Linked DNA regions of Homo sapiens: region 1 is linked to region 2. The links come from fine-mapping of genetic effects on gene expression. Tissue or cell type: subcutaneous fat. Region 2 holds a variant in brackets; the other region holds the start of a gene. All regions are shown on one strand. Distances are between the middles of the regions.

Region 1 (8,000 bases), 84 kb before region 2:
GTGTGTCCTTGTGCAGGGGACTTCTGAACTCTAGGCCTGAGTCTCCTCATCTGTAAAATGGGCCTGATGACATCCCTGCCTGGCACACGTAGGTGACTGATAAATATGTGTTTAATGACCGAATACTTTCCCCCTGTGGTTGGTTTGAGGAGTCAGGTACCATCCAGCTGTCCTGTTCCCCTACAACTGTTCAATAAATATTACCCAAGTACCTGCATCCAGCCAGGCCCTGGGATGGGTGCTCGGAAACTGTTATTACATCATCATCACCACCACCATCATCATCACCACTATCACCACCATCATCACCACTATCACCATCACCATCATCACCACTATCACCACCATCATCACCACTATCACTATCATCACCACCACCATCACCATCACCACCACCACCACTATCACCATCATCACCACCACCATCACCACTATCACCATCATCACCACCACCACCATCATCATATCACCATCATCACCACCATCACCACCACCACCATCACCACCATGACCACCATCATCACCACCATCACCATCACCACCACCACCACCACGACCATCATCACCACCACCACCATCACCACCACCACGACCATCATCACCACCACCACCATCACCACCACCATCACCACCACCACCATCACCACCACCATCACCACCACCACCATCACCACCACCACCATCACCACCACCATCACCACCACCACCATCACCACCACCATCACCACCACCACCATCACCACCACCATCACCACCATCACCACCACCACCACCATCACCACCATGACCACCATCATCACCACCATCACCACCATCACCATCACCACCACCACGACCATCATCACCACCACCACCATCACCACCACCATCACCACCACCACCATCACCACCACCATCACCACCATCACCACCACGACCACCATCACCACCACCACCATCATCACCACCATCACCACCACCAGTCATCACCATCACCACCACCAACACCACCACCATCACCATCATCACCACCATCACCACCACCATCATCACCATCACCACCATCACCACCACCACCACCATCACCATCACCACCACCATCACCATCGTCACCACTACCATCACCATCACACCACCACCATCACCATCACCACCATCATCACCATCACCACCACCACCATCACCATCACCACCACTACCATCACCACCACCATCACCATCATCACCACTACCATCACCATCACCACCACCATCACCACCACCACCATCACCATCATCACCACTACCATCACCATCACCACCACCATCACCATCACCACCATCATCACCATCATCACCACCACCATCACCATCACCACCATCATCACCACCACCATCACCACCACAGTCATCACCATTATCACCACCACCATCACCACCATCATCACCATTACCACCATCACACCATCATCATCATCATCACCATCATCACAGGCTGATGAGTGTTGGGGAGAGGCTGAGCCCCTCATGAGCAGACAGGCCCATGTGTGGCTGAGATACAGGACTGGCTGCAGGGAGGAGGTATGAGGGGACCGAGTCTGAGACTGGGGTGAGAGGCAAGGAGCACCCAGTTCCAGCGAGGGAAGGGAACATCCTGCTCCCGTAGGGACAAAGGACCCAGTGGCAGGCAGGCAAAGGCAGGGAGAGTGAGGGGCGCAGGACTCACGTAGGCAAGGGTGGGGGTGCCGGGGCGTGGCAGGCCGCCAGGGCCAGTCTCGATGGGACGGGCGGCAGCTCTCGCACCCCGGGCCAGTGGTATGGTGGCGGCAGTGGCAGCGGGGGGGCCGGGCACGGGCGGCACAGCGGGCAGCGTGGCCATGACACTGGCAGCGGCCTCTCAGCCCAGCTGCCGCTAGCCCGGCCTGGCCCCCAAACTCCACACGGAGGTGGCTGGCCGCCACAGTGGCCTTAGGACCTGGTGTGGAGTGGAAGGTCACCCTTTCAGGGCCCCCTAAGGCCCCAGGCCAGGCGGGCCTGTGCCACAGCAGCCTCCAGGGACCCCCTGAGGCCCAGGCAGCAGACAGGATGAGGGCTGGGGGTCCTGGGGTACAGAAGCGCAAGCTGACAGATGTCAGGAGGAAGGGGCCACCCAGGGCCAAAGTCAGGCTGCCATTGCAGGTTTCCCTGGCGCCAAGGTGGTTTCCTGGGGACAGGGCACAGGCCTGAGGGCAGGAGGCCGCCACGGCAGCCAGCTGTGTCACTGGCGGGAGGCAGAATTGGGGGCGGCCCTGTGGATCGTAGCATGGGTCCGCAGTGGCCTGGCCCAGGAGGAGCAGGAGGGCAAAGGTCACGGGCATGGTCACAGCAGAGCCAGCACCTGGAGGGAAGAGAGGTGGCTGGGCTGGGGATCTCAGCCGCAGCCTCTACCCCTCCTGGAGGTGTCCTGTGGAACTGGGGCATTCCACCCCCAACCCGTCCAGGCCCCCTCCCCGGCTGCATGGAAGCGAGGAAAATAGTTCCATCTGGGGAGAATTACTGTTTACATAACCCAAAGGGGAAAGAACGCAGACAAAATCGAGAATTTTGCCTGAACTAATCCGTAGCTTAACACCCCAGAGTTATCCGTCAGTGTCGAGGGGCAGGGGGCCCTGGGGAGCGGTGAGCGGCTGGAGCAGAGGGGCTGGCCAAGGCCAGCAGACGTGGAAACCTAGAGAGGGACACAGAGACAAGCAGGGCTGGGCAGGAGAGGGGGCTTAGGGACAGATGAAGACTCAGTCACAAAGAAATAGAGGACAGGACAGAGGCAGAGAGAGGACAGTCAGCCTAGGGGAGGCGCTCGGCACAGAGAAGTTGCTGCAAAGACAGAGGAACAGACAGGAGGCTGAGAGGCTGAGACAGAGGCCAGGCACCCAGAGGCCACAGGGAGCTGGGAGACTGAGGCTCGGACTGCCTGGGGGCTGGGATAGGTGGGCAGGTGGGCTCAGAGACACCCAGCCTGGCAGGCCCTGGGGAGGGGAGGGAAGGGGACAGGCTAGGGGTGTCTGGCGGGGGATCAGAAGTGAGAGACCGAGGCCCAGGCCTGCAGGGATCAGAGCCATTGCCTTTCCCACATGGGGCCCTAACCTTGTTCTCCACACCCTGGGCACGGAAGGGGATTATCACCAAACAACCCAGCCTCCCTGCCACCCGCCCACCCACCCCCAGCGCCCCACCCTTAACCCTTTCCCACCCGAGTGCAAAGCCCAGAGAGCTGAGCTGAGGAAAGGGATGCTGGGAGCTGGAACCTGGGTGGCTCTGGGGCTTGGGAGCGGGACAGTGGGATCCCCATGGGGTCAGGGGAAGCAGACACCTGGGTTCCCTTCAGAACTCAGGGTGTGGGGACCGGAAGTTAGCGTTCTGGGACTTTCTGCTCACCTCAACCCTGCCCTCTATTCTGGGCCTCAGGGCCTGGAGACCAGAGTCCCCACATTCTCCACCCATCCAGAGTTCCCCAGAGCAGATGGGGGAACAGATGTTGGGGGCGGTGGGTAATGAGGAGGAGAGAGGCAGGAAGGCAGGAGCTGGGACAGGGTGGGGTGCCAGATGCCAGGGCGCCCGTGGGGGCAGAAGCCCAGACCCTAGGAATGGCAGGAGCTGGGAAGGACTGGACTCTGAAATGCCCCCACTTTCCCCTTCCAGGGCCAGCAGCCTCTGGTGAGGAGCTCACTGTGGACTGGGGGCCTCGGAGCCTTTCCAGGCCCTTGGCTCTGAATCTGCGCCCAGGAATGTCCCTGGGCTGGGCATCTCTGGGGCACCCTGGCGGTTGAGGTGGGCCACACCTGCCCCAGCCTGGCCTCACTGCCCATGTCCCCACTGCTGTTGGCCACATGCAGACGCTGCCTCCCCTGGCCCAGATGACAGGCCTCGCCCTCCGCCCTCCCAAGGAGCCTGGCGCCATTTTGCACCCACTCAGGTGGCAGCCGCCTGCCTGGCCCTCAGCAGCATCCTGTTAAGGGCCAGTCCCCCATGTCCCCTTTCTCTCTGGATAGTTGCTGGATAGTTCAGGGGGTGGCACCCTCTGGCCCTTAGCACCTTGAGGAACCAGGCTGTGAGTTCCCTAGTGTTCCTGGGGGATCCAGAAACCAGTCGTGGCCCACAGAGAGCCCATACCCCTCTTTAAGAAAGAGTCCAGCCATGCTCCCAGCAGACTCATAGGAGGCCTGCCTGGGCGGCCTGGGGTCCATCTGGGACCCAGGCTTCCTTTCCCTGGCTCTTGGCATGCACCCCCCAACCCGAGCCCTGAGGCCCCGACATTGGCCAAACCTGCACTCAAGAAGAGAGCGTCCTGCAGCCAGTTCCCCGCAGGCTCTTCCTCCAAGCTGTGGCGCGGTGGGCTCTCAGGAGGGAGTGGCGTGGCTGTTCTCAGGCCCCAGGCTAGTGGGGTTTCTGGGCTGGGCGGGGGCTCAGAGCAGAGCCCGCAGAATCTAACACCGCCACCCCCCTCCCACCCCAATCCCTCACCAACCGCAGCCACGCTATCCCCACAGGGACCCCTGCCAGCCAGGCCACCCGCAACGGTGTGGGACGTGAGTGCCGTTGCCCCCGGCGGTCCAGCAGCAGGACAGCCCCGAGCAGCCTGGCCTAGGAGGCTCACCGCAGGTAGGACGGGAGGCTGTCAGTCGGGGGTCCCGCTCCATCCCACTCCACCCCTGCCCACTGGCTCAGCCCCGCCTTGTGGTGGCCGCCATCGCGATCGGGCAGGGGCTGACCTTTGGGAGACAATCGCTGTTGGAAACTTTGCTCAGCCCCTGCCTCTGGCTGCGTGACCCCAAGCCAGCCCCTCCTCCTCCTCTCTGGAACCTTTTGTCAGCTGTGGGTTCACCGAGCCTTAAGGTCAGTAAAATCTGTGCTCTTGGAAGGTTCAGACCAGCCCCTGGAATTCAAAAGACCTCAGTCGCTTTCTAAGATGGTGGGGAAGGCGACAAATGAGCTGAGAACACCTGGGCCCCAGTGTTTCTCATGCGGCAGAGGGAGAAGGCGGGGACCCCCGGGGTGCGGGGGACCAAGCTCAAAAGCACCTCCCCAGTGCCGCTGGTGTCCTGCGAGTCCTCAGTGCTTTCATCGTGACATTTTCATGCGAATGTTGCTGTCTGTTCTATTCCATCTCCGAATGGGTTGACTAGAAAAATAATGTTTTCTGTCACTTCCCGCTGAGAAAAGCAAGGGCCTCATGGAGTTGGGGCGCGGCACCTGCTGCCCTGGGTGGCCCCAGCGTTTATCGTGGTGTAGCGTGGGCCCAATCCTGACAGGCTTGGGACCCACTGCCCCAGGCCCGCCCCCAGGGGGTGCGAGGGCACAGCAAAGGCGACCCTCGACTCTGGACCCTTAGGTACCACGTTGGAGGGGGCCAGATTTGGCAGGAGCAGGACAGGGACATCGGATTTGAAAGAAGGGAGTCACTCCGAAAGCTGGGAGGTGCATCAGCTGCAGGAGGATGGAATGGGGCTGAGACGCCCCCCATCAGAGGGGGCATGTCAGAGCTGGGGGCCCAGGCTGTGTGAGTCAGAGTGGAACTTCGGGATTCAGGCGCAGGTCCCTCCGCTGACCCTGCCTGAGCTCCCCCTGTATGGGACTTTGCCGGGGGTTCGCGCTGGGAACACAGACCCCTGCCCCATCAGGCTCAGTGTCCAGAGAGGGAGGGGGAGACCCCAGCAGCGCAGGTCCTTCTGTGCTCTAGGTTGTTGGAAGGTGCCAAGTGCCTTGGAGCAAAGCAAGTGGGGGGGGCGGCCACGGGGGCCCGGGGATTGCAGATGTAAGTGGGGTGATGCGGAGGGGCATTTGTGCTGAGCCCACCGCCAGCACAGAACCCAGCTTTGCTGCCACACAAAACTGAGGAAGAAGGCTTAGGTCTCGCTGCGTCTTCCTCCCCACCTGGGCGAAGTCTCAAGCTCCGGCTCCTGGAGGGAAGCTTTTGTTCCTTGCAGCTTGAGCTGCCTGAGTTGATGGGCGCCCCTGCGGGTGCCCGGGGGCAGGCGGGGAAGAACAGACGGAGCTGCCACAGCCGAGCACATAGTGCCCCAAGCTGGGAAGGAGACTGTTTTTTTTGTTGGGGAGAGTTCTTTAAGGGCTGGAGACCTTCACCCTCACAGCTTCTACAGAAGGCCAGGCCTGCCCAAGGCACATCTCTGAGGTGGGTTCAACCCAGAGAGAACCTCAGTGCTGGGCTCACACAGACCTCTAACCCCTGCCTTGGTGGCCCAGATATAACGGAGTCTCCACGAGGCAGGGCAGGTCACCCGCAGGAGTTACTGGGCATTGTGTGGCTGGGTAGGGCCTGCCCTCCCGGACATGTTCAAAAAGGCCAGGATGGTAACCCCAGCCATACTGCCTGGGTTCAAATCCACCTCTGTCCTAGCTGTGTGACCGAGAACAAGCTTCTTAACCTCTCTGTGCCTTCATTTCCTCATCTGTTAAATGAGGAAGAAAGAATGGACCTTCCTCATGGTGGGCGGAGGGGGTCATGAGGACTGAATGAGCTGACATGCCCACGGGTTCTTATCTGAGCTCTCTGGGAAAGTCGTGTTCCGGAACCTTCTGCTTCCTGGCCCTGTTGTCGGATGCATAGTACGTACGTGACATGGCATCCATGGTAGGTCTGGGCCGCATCACATTGTCAAACATGTTATGTTTTAGGCAGCAGAGCACATGGGTGTTCACAGTAAGAGAAGTAAAGTCTGCAAATAGCCACATGACCCTCCTCCAAGCCAGGGTTGTCCCCAGATGAGTTCAGTCCAGGTTGGCGTTTGCCGCTCCCCCTGAGGAAAATGGCTGACAAGGAATCGCGGACCAGGACAGCCAGCCCCGTGATGGGCCTGCCCGCCAGCACCCTCGCAGCCTCGGCCTTGGCTGGTGCTTTTCTGCGGCTTTCTGGTTGTCTAGGCTGAGAACAGCCACAAGAGGGAGCACCTGAGATTCCAGGAGAAGCCAGAGCAGCCGCGGTACCCACTGCTTGATCTGCAGGGCCTGGGGGAAAATGCAGACACAGGACCCCTTGTTTAGAATTTATGAAGGATTTTAAGACGGCAACACCAGATCATTAAAGCAAGCGTGGGGCCTGTCTCAGCGCAACTGCACGAGTCACACAAAATGAAGGCGGACCCCGCGGGGGGCACCCTTGTCCTGAGCTGGTTTCCCTTGGCCAGTGACCCAGGCTCCTGTCCCTGCCCTGCACCCCCACTGACCCCAGCTCTAGCCTTGGGACCTGCCTGGGGGCTCCAGCTGGGCTCAGAGCTCAGCTCCTTCTCCGTGGGGCAGGACCCTGAGTTGAGTGGATGGCAAGATCATGTTTGGGACACAGTTTTCACCAGCTCAGTGAAAAAAGGCTTGGGCAGATTTAATTCACTTTTTGCAAACTAAAGCAGCACCAGGAGCATTTTTCTTAGGCCTTAGGCCAGCTGGCCTTGCTGGGGACCCACACGAGACTTTCAAGGAGGGCCCCAGAGTGTTCAGGCTTCTCAGAAGGGTCAGATGAACCAAATGAGGAGCCCTGGAATAGAGGAGGATGACAGCTGAAGAGGCCTGGAGGGCCCCAGATTGTTCAGGCTTCTCAGAAGGGCCAGATGAACCAAATGAGGAGCCCTGGAATAGAGGAGGATGACAGTTGAAGAGGCCTGTAGGCCCCCGATGTTTAAGAGGACAGGCGGAGGGAGAGATGGGGAGCCGGGAGGGGTGAGGCAGAAGCCAGAAGTTTTAGGGGTGAGCCCATGCCAACCAGGGCTTCAGCAGGAATGGGGTGGGAGGGAGGGGGTGAAGGGATGACTGCTGAGCTGTAGCCATTGGAGTGGCCACAGGGAAACCATAGGACATTGGTCAGAGGAGTGGACAAGGGGAGAAGAGAAAGCCGATCAGGACATGGTAGAGGCTGGGAGCAGAGGACCTTCTGGGAGCCCTGGGGAGAGCTGGAGGAGACTCGGAAAGAGCAGCCCCCGGAGAAGGGACCATCCATCCCACGGCGAGGACCGGGACCGAGGTCCTTGGAGCCCAGTCAGGCCCAGTGGTCAGGG
Region 2 (8,000 bases):
CCTGGTTCTGAAGGAGTTGTTCCTGGGTCCCAGGAACAACTGAGTGGGGCAGTCCCCACTTACCCGAGCTGCTTGCAGGTGGCAGATCCACAGTCCGCTTTTCGTGGCCGGAGCGCACCCTCCGCAAAGGCAGGCCACATCCGGCCGCCCCTGGAACGCCAGGCGTCCGGCTATCCGGCCCGGCAGCCCTCCCCTCCGCGCAGCCTGTCCGGACTGGCAGCGAGGGCTTGGGGAGGAGAGGAAGGAGAGGGCGCGGCCGGGAGTCTCGCAGCGTCCGCCCTCCCGGGCCGGGCGGATGGCTGGAAGGTGGAGCCCCGCCCGTCACTTGGCGCCGAGCCCCAGCGCCAGGGGCTAAGGCGATGGCCCCTGGGCCCACCGCTCCCCAGATCGGGGATGCAGGGGACCGCGCCCTGCCCCTCCGCCCCGTCATTGACCTGCGCGAAGGCTTCACCCAGGGCAGGCTACCTGGCTTCTGAGCAGCCGCAGCATCATTGCGTGGACCAGGAGACGGAGCGCCCAGTTGCAATGCTGGAGCCGGGAGGTCCAATCCGCCGCCCTCTCTCTTCCGGTGCCAGGGCTTAGAGTCGGCCCCCGACACCTGGGTGCTTCGAGCCTGGCCACGCCCCAGCGGCTGGGCAGGGCCCCCGCACCTGGTCCCGGCGAGTGGAGCGATCGTCCGCCCTCTGCCGCGTCCTCCTGGGGGATGGAGAACCTGTTTGCCAGGCTGCCGCCGGAGCGCGCGAGGGCCTCCAGCCTGCAGGTGCTCCCGCGCCCACCAGGGTCTCCGATCTCCCACACCCCCCGCCTCACCGTCCACACTCAAATTCCAGAATCCCAGCCCCTAGTCACTCCTTTTGGGGAATTCTAGGGTCCCGTGCCAAACTGCTACTTTCCAGACCTGCACTGCACGAAGGCAACCATTCCAAGGCTGGAGACCGGAGTGGAACAGGGTCTGTTTCCCACGCCGTCAGCGGGGGCCGTGGCTGCCGGCGCCAGAGACAAAGGCCTCTGCCCGCTTGTCACCTAATTAAAGCATTTTCTCTGGTCCAAGGCCCACCTCCAGCATCGCCAACCCCGAGCAGGGCAGGCTAACGTAGGGTCCAGCCCTACGGGGCTTTGCGGGTGGGTGTTCTTCCCCTGTGAGGAGAGGAGAGATTGTAAGAAATAAAGACACAAGACAAAGAGATAAAGAGAAAACAGCTGGGCCCGGGGGACCACTACCATCAAGACGCAGAGACCGGTAGTGGCCCCGAATGGCTGGGCGCGCTGATATTTATTGTATACAAGACAAGGGGGGGCAGGATAAGGAGGGTGAGTCGTCCAAATGACTGATAAGGTCAAGCAAGTCACGTGATCATGGGACAGGGGGCCCTTCCCTTTTAGGCAGCCGAAGCAGAAAGAGAAGGCAGCATATGTCAGCGTTTTCTTCTCTGCACTTATAAGAAAGATCAAAGACTTTAAGACTTTCACTATTTCGGGCGGGCGCGGTGGCTCACGCCTGTAATCCCAGCACTTTGGGAGGCTGAGGCGGGCGGATCACAAGGTCAGGAGGTGGAGGCCATCCTGGCTAACACGGTGAAACCCTGTCTCTACTAAAAATACAAAAAATTATCCGGGCGCGTGGTGGAGGGCGCCTGTAGTCCTAGCTATTTGGGAGGGTGAGGCAGGAGAATGGTGTGAACCCAGGAGGCGGAGATTGCAGTGAGCCGAGATCACGCCACTGCACTCCAGCCTGGGGGACAGAGCGAGACTCCGCCTCAAAAAAAAAAAAAAAAAGGCTTTCACTATTTCTTCTACCGCTATCTACTACGAACTTCAAAGAGGAACCAGGAGTACGGGAGGAAAATGCAAGAGGACAAGGAGCGTGACCATTGAAGCACAGCACAGCAGGATGACTGCGGGCAGGCCTAGATAATACCCAGCCTCCCACAAGAAGCTGGTGGAGCAGAGTGTTCCCTGACTCCTCCAAGAAAAGGAGATTCCCTTTCGTGGTCTGCTGAGTAACGGGTGCCTTCCCAGACACTGGCGTTCCCGCTTGACCAAGGAGCCCTCAAGAGGCCCTTATGCCGGTGTGACAGAAGGCTCACCTCTTGCCTTCTAGGTCACTTCTCACAATGTCCCTTCAGTACCTGACCCTATACCCACCGGTTGTTTCCTGGTTATATTAGTTATACAACAAAGAATAAAAGTAATAGCTAATGATTAATAATGTTTACACTAATGATTGATACTGTCCATGATCATCTCTATATCTAATTTGTATGATAACTATTCTTATTCTAACTATTTTCTTTATTATACTGAAACAGTTTGTGCCTTCAGTCTCTTGCCTCGGCACCTGGGTAATCCTTCCCCACAGACTGACCCTCCCATTCAAGATACATCAATGTCAAAGACTCAGGAGTTTGACTTGATTCCCAGAAGTTTAACCATCATCTCCCCAGGCTCGGGACTCCCAGCACCCAGACCCTTCTGCTCACACCCAGCAGTCCAGGCCCCCAGACCCTCCTCCCTCAGACTTAGGAGTCCAGGCTCCCGGCCCCTCCTTCCTCAGACCCAGGAGTCCAAGCCCCCTGCCCCTCCTTCCTCAGACCCAGGAGTCCAGGACCCCAGCCCCTCCTTCCTCACACCCACGAGTCCAGATCCCTAGCCCCTACTCCCTCAGACCCAGGAGTCCAGACCAAAGCTCCCTCCTCCCTCAGACCCAGGAGCCCAAGTTCCCCAGCCCCTCCTCCCTCAGATCCAGGAGTACAGGCCCAGACCCTCCTCCCTCAGACCCAGGAGTCCAGGCCCCCCACCCCTCCTCCCTCAGACCCAGGAGTCCAGAGCCCCAGCCCTCCTCCCTCAGACACAGAAGGCCTACCCTTGCACCCTTAGGGGCTCCAGGAAATTAGCCAACCTGTCTTCCCTCTGGGTGCCCACTCCAGGGCCTGGCTTGGCTGCCAACTCCAGTCAGGGACTTTCAGCCACCCCTCCCCCCAGGTTATTTCAGGAGCACCTGCCTGGGCCTGGGATGGCTTCTCTGGTGAAAGAAACACCAGGATTGCATCAGGGAGGAGGAGGCTGGGATGTCCAGGGTCTGAGCATCTGAGCAGGGACAGATGAGGTTGAGGTTGGCCCACGGCCAGGTGAGAGGCTTCCAAGGCAGGATACTTGTGTCTCAGATGCGGTCGCTTCTTTCATACAGCAATTGCCGCCTTGCTGAGGATCAAGGAACCTCAGTGTCAGATCACGCCCTCCCCCCAAACTTAGAAATTCAGATGGGGCGCAGAAATTTCTCTTGTTCTGCGTGATCTGCATAGATGGTCCAAGAGGTGGTTTTTCCAGGAGCCCAGCACCCCTCCTCCCTCCGACTCAGGTGCTTGAGACCCCAGATCCTTCTCTCTGAGACTCAGGAATGTGGGCCCCCAGCCCCTTTCACCTGGGTCCCAGCTAACCCGATCCTCCCCTCCCTCATCCCCTAGACCCAGGAGTCTGGCCCTCCATTGAAAGGACCCCAGGTTACATCATCCATTCAGGCTGCCCTTGCCACGATGGAATTCTGTAGCTCCTGCCAAATGGGTCAAATATCATGGTTCAGGCGCAGGGAGGGTGATTGGGCGGGCCTGTCTGGGTATAAATTCTGGAGCTTCTGCATCTATCCCAAAAAACAAGGGTGTTCTGTCAGCTGAGGATCCAGCCGAAAGAGGAGCCAGGCACTCAGGCCACCTGAGTCTACTCACCTGGACAACTGGAATCTGGCACCAATTCTAAACCACTCAGCTTCTCCGAGCTCACACCCCGGAGATCACCTGAGGACCCGAGCCATTGATGGACTCGGACGAGACCGGGTTCGAGCACTCAGGACTGTGGGTTTCTGTGCTGGCTGGTCTTCTGCTGGGAGCCTGCCAGGCACACCCCATCCCTGACTCCAGTCCTCTCCTGCAATTCGGGGGCCAAGTCCGGCAGCGGTACCTCTACACAGATGATGCCCAGCAGACAGAAGCCCACCTGGAGATCAGGGAGGATGGGACGGTGGGGGGCGCTGCTGACCAGAGCCCCGAAAGTGAGTGTGGGCCAGAGCCTGGGTCTGAGGGAGGAGGGGCTGTGGGTCTGGATTCCTGGGTCTGAGGGAGGAGGGGCTGGGGGCCTTGGCCCCTGGGTCTGAGGGAGGAGGGGCTGGGGATCTGGACTCCTGGGTCTGAGGGAGGAGGGGCTGGGGATCTGGGCCCCTGGGTCTGAGGGAGGAGGGGCTGGGTCTGGACCCCTGGGTCTGAGGGAGGAGGGGCTGGGGGTCTGGACTCTTGGGT[T/G]TGAAGGAGGAAGGGCTGGGGTCCTGGACTCTTGGGTCTGAGTTGGGAGGGGGCTTTGGCTTGGGCTTCTCCTGGGTCTGAGGGAGGAGGTAGGCTGTGGGCTTGGACTCCCAGGGCTGGGACAGAGCCGGATGGTGGGACAGAGTCGGGTGGTGGGACAGTCCCGGGTGGGAGAGGTCCTCGAACCACCTTATCGCTTTCACCCCTTAGGTCTCCTGCAGCTGAAAGCCTTGAAGCCGGGAGTTATTCAAATCTTGGGAGTCAAGACATCCAGGTTCCTGTGCCAGCGGCCAGATGGGGCCCTGTATGGATCGGTGAGTTTCCAGGACCCTCCTCACCACCCACCATGCTCCTCCTATATGTCGCCCTCACAGCCTGGGGTGCCTTGTCTTGCTCATCCCCCCCGGAGCCAGACTTGATTCTATTTGCTCTGCACGCCCCCAGCTGCAACATTTGGAGGTTGAAGTTGTCATCAGTGTTTGCAAGATGAGGAAACTGAGGCCCAGGCCGGGGCGCCAGTGACCTCAATCATGTGATGTGTGGATGCTGGAGCGGCCTGAGGCTCAGGTTATTGGGAGTCTCGTGATTCAGTAACCCCTGCTCCTGCCCACACGGCCCCTGTGTGCACGGCTCATGCTGGGCACAGGGACACTCGGGGAAGCCATGGCCAGTAAAGTGACCAGGACCTTGAGTGCTAGGGAGACACCCCGCCTGGCCTGAGAGAGCACTGATGGCTCCGAGGGCTGGAATGTTCTCTGTGAAGTCTGAACTGGGAGGCAGGTCCCTGCAGGAGAGCCCTGGGGTAAAAAACAAAACCTGCCTTGCTGTTTTGTTTCCTAGAGGAGGGGCTGGGGGCCTGGACTCCTGGGTCTGAGGGAGGAGGGGCTGGGGGCCTGGACCCCTGGGTCTGAGGGAGGAGGGGCTGGGGCCTGGAACCCCGGGTCTGAGGGAGGAGAGGCTGGGGCCTGGAACCCCGGGTCTGAGGGAGGAGAGGCTGGGGCCTGGAACCCCGGGTCTGAGGGAGGAGGCGCTGGGGGCCTGGACTCCTGGGTCGGATGGAGGAGAAACTAGGGTCTGGACCCCTGGGTCTGAGGGAGGAGGCGCTGGGGGCCTGGACCCCTGGGTCTGAGGGAGGCAGGGCTGGGGCCTGGATCCTGGGTCTTACATCAGGAAAACAGAGGAACCCTGTCTCTGATCCTGTTTTTGTCCCCTAGCTCCACTTTGACCCTGAGGCCTGCAGCTTCCGGGAGCTGCTTCTTGAGGACGGATACAATGTTTACCAGTCCGAAGCCCACGGCCTCCCGCTGCACCTGCCAGGGAACAAGTCCCCACACCGGGACCCTGCACCCCGAGGACCAGCTCGCTTCCTGCCACTACCAGGCCTGCCCCCCGCACTCCCGGAGCCACCCGGAATCCTGGCCCCCCAGCCCCCCGATGTGGGCTCCTCGGACCCTCTGAGCATGGTGGGACCTTCCCAGGGCCGAAGCCCCAGCTACGCTTCCTGAAGCCAGAGGCTGTTTACTATGACATCTCCTCTTTATTTATTAGGTTATTTATCTTATTTATTTTTTTATTTTTCTTACTTGAGATAATAAAGAGTTCCAGAGGAGGATAAGAATGAGCATGTGTGAGTGTCTGAGGGAAGACATGGCAGCTGTTTTGTCTCCCTTGGCCCGGACAATCCCCTCTACACCTCCCCTCACGTGGTCCGAGGGTCCTGGCTTCCCACTGGGCCTCACTTTTTTCTTTTCTTTTCTTTTTTTTTTTTTGAGACGGAGTCTCGCTCTGTCACCCAGGCTGGAGTGCAGTGGCGCGATCTTGGCTCACTCCAACCTCCGCCTCCCAGGTTCAAGCAATTCTCCTGCCTCAGCCACCCGAGTAGCTGTGATTACAGGCGTGCGCCACCACACCCAGCTAATTTTGTAATTTTAGTAGAGACAGGGTTTCGCCATGTTGGCCAGGATGCTCTCCATCTCTTGACTTCATGACCTGCCTGCCTTGGCCTCCCAAAGTGCTGGGATTACAGGCTTGAGTCACTGTGCCCAGCCCAGCCTCACTTTTCTACTCTGCTAAAGTGTCCCCAGGGACTGTGGACTATCCCTGCTCTCTGAAAGGACAAGACTGGCCGGGAGTGGTGGCTTACGCCTGTAATCCCAGCACTTTGGGAGGCCGAGGCAGGTGGATCACGAGGTCAGGAGATTGAGACTATCCTGGCTAATACGATGAAACCCCGTCTCTACTAAAAATACAAAAACAAAATTAGCTGGGCGTGGTGGCGGGCGCCTGTAGTCCCAGCTACTCCGGAGGCTGAGGCAGAATGGCGTGAATGCGGGAGGCGGAGCTTGCAGTGAGCCGAGATCGCGCCACTGCACTCCAGCCCAGGCCACAGAGCGAGATTCCATCTCAAAAAAATAAATAAATAAATAAATAAATAAATAAATATAAAAATAAAATGAAAGAGCAGGACTTCTTTCTACAACCCCTCAACTTGTGTGAGCGTTGTGTAACTATTTCATAGAGCTACCTCGATAACAGGGGAGCTTTTACGAGGTGACACAGCACACTCACATCCTCATGGGAGATGTAGTTTTCTGGCATCATTTAGCAGCAGGAATGAGATCTGTTGGGCCTCAAATCTGGGACAAGGACTCCTGGGTCCTGGAGTAGGTTTGGGGCTAGTGTAACACCCAAGTTCTGGGGAATCAGTGGGCTGGACATCTGGACACCTGGATCACAGGAGAACTGGGGACTGCAGACTTAGGCATCCTGGTCTGAGAAAAAAGGGGCTGGAGGGTGGGAGTTTGGGTTCTCAGGAAAAGGAGCTGAAACCTGGAATTCTTCCATCTGGGTCCTTATGAACTTTTTAATATTTATTTATTTATTTATCTTATTTTGTTTTTTTTCTGAGATGGAGTCTCGCTCTGTCACCAGGCCCAAGTGCAGTGGCACAATCTCGGCTCCCTGCAACCTCCGTCTCCTGGGTTCAAGCGATTCTCCTGCCTTAGCCTCCCGAGTAGCTGGGACTACAGACAAGCGCCACCACACCCGTTTGTTTGTTTGATTGCTTGTTTGTTTGTTTTGAGACAGAGTTTCCCTCTTGTTGCCAAGGCTGGAGTGCAATGGCACAATCTCGGCTCACCACAATCTCCGCCTCCCGGCTTCAAGTGATTCTCCTGCCTCAGCCTCCCGAGTAGCTGGGATTATGGGCATGCGCCACCATGCCCAGATAATTTTGTATTTTTAGTAGAGATGGGGTTTCTCCATGTTGGTCAGGCTGGTCTCGAACTCCCCACCTCAGGTGATCCGCCCGCCTCAGCCTCCCAAAGTGCTGGGGTTATAGGCGTGAGCCACCACGCCTGGCTGCTTGTTTTTTGAGACAGAGTCTCGCTCTGTTGCCCAGGCTGGAGTGCAGTGGCACAATCTTGGTTCACTGCCACCTCTGTCTCCTGGGCTTAAGCGATTCTCAGCTCTGGAGTAGCTAGGATTACAGGCACCACCACTATGGCCAGCTAATTTTTGTGTTTTTAGTAGAGACGGGGTTTCACCATGTTGGTCAGGCTGGTCTCAAATTCTTGACCTCAAGTGATCTGCCCACCTTGGCCTCTCAAAGTGCTGGGATTACAGGCGTGAGATACTGCACCCGGCGTTTACTTTTATTTATTTGTTTGTTTGTTTGTTTATTTTTGAGACAGAGTCTCTCTCTGCCACCCA

What was found. PIP is the estimated chance that this variant, and not a neighbour inherited with it, causes the effect.
Region 1: it holds the start of NTN5, and the variant in region 2 is fine-mapped to the expression of NTN5 in subcutaneous fat (FUSION, PIP 0.90).

What each region holds. Positions count from the first base shown.
Region 1 is chr19:48,668,672-48,676,671 of GRCh38, forward strand. NTN5 (netrin 5) reads right to left here and starts at 4,346. Exons shown (of 7, transcript NM_145807.4): 1 at 4,261-4,346; 2 at 1,685-2,335. The coding sequence starts at 2,315. LOC105372431 (a long non-coding RNA gene) reads right to left here. Exons shown (of 3, transcript XR_936016.3): 2 at 6,570-6,960; 3 at 4,475-5,116. It also overlaps the pseudogene SEC1P. RefSeq lists enhancers at 5,903-6,551, 6,552-7,199 and a silencer at 6,825-6,974.
Region 2 is chr19:48,752,427-48,760,426 of GRCh38, forward strand. FUT1 (fucosyltransferase 1 (H blood group)) reads right to left here and starts at 215. Exons shown (of 2, transcript NM_001384359.1): 1 at 64-215. FGF21 (fibroblast growth factor 21) reads left to right here and starts at 3,098. Exons shown (of 4, transcript NM_019113.4): 1 at 3,098-3,358; 2 at 3,465-4,045; 3 at 4,500-4,603; 4 at 5,504-5,904. The coding sequence starts at 3,811. The coding sequence ends at 5,794. RefSeq lists a silencer at 252-301, enhancers at 417-1,003, 2,320-3,185, 3,186-4,049, promoters at 2,701-6,240, 2,810-3,778, 2,936-3,542, 2,974-3,065, 3,011-3,778 and cis regulatory regions at 2,822-3,382, 3,017-3,029, 3,057-3,065, 4,873-4,879. The variant T/G (reference allele first, on the strand shown) is at 4,290.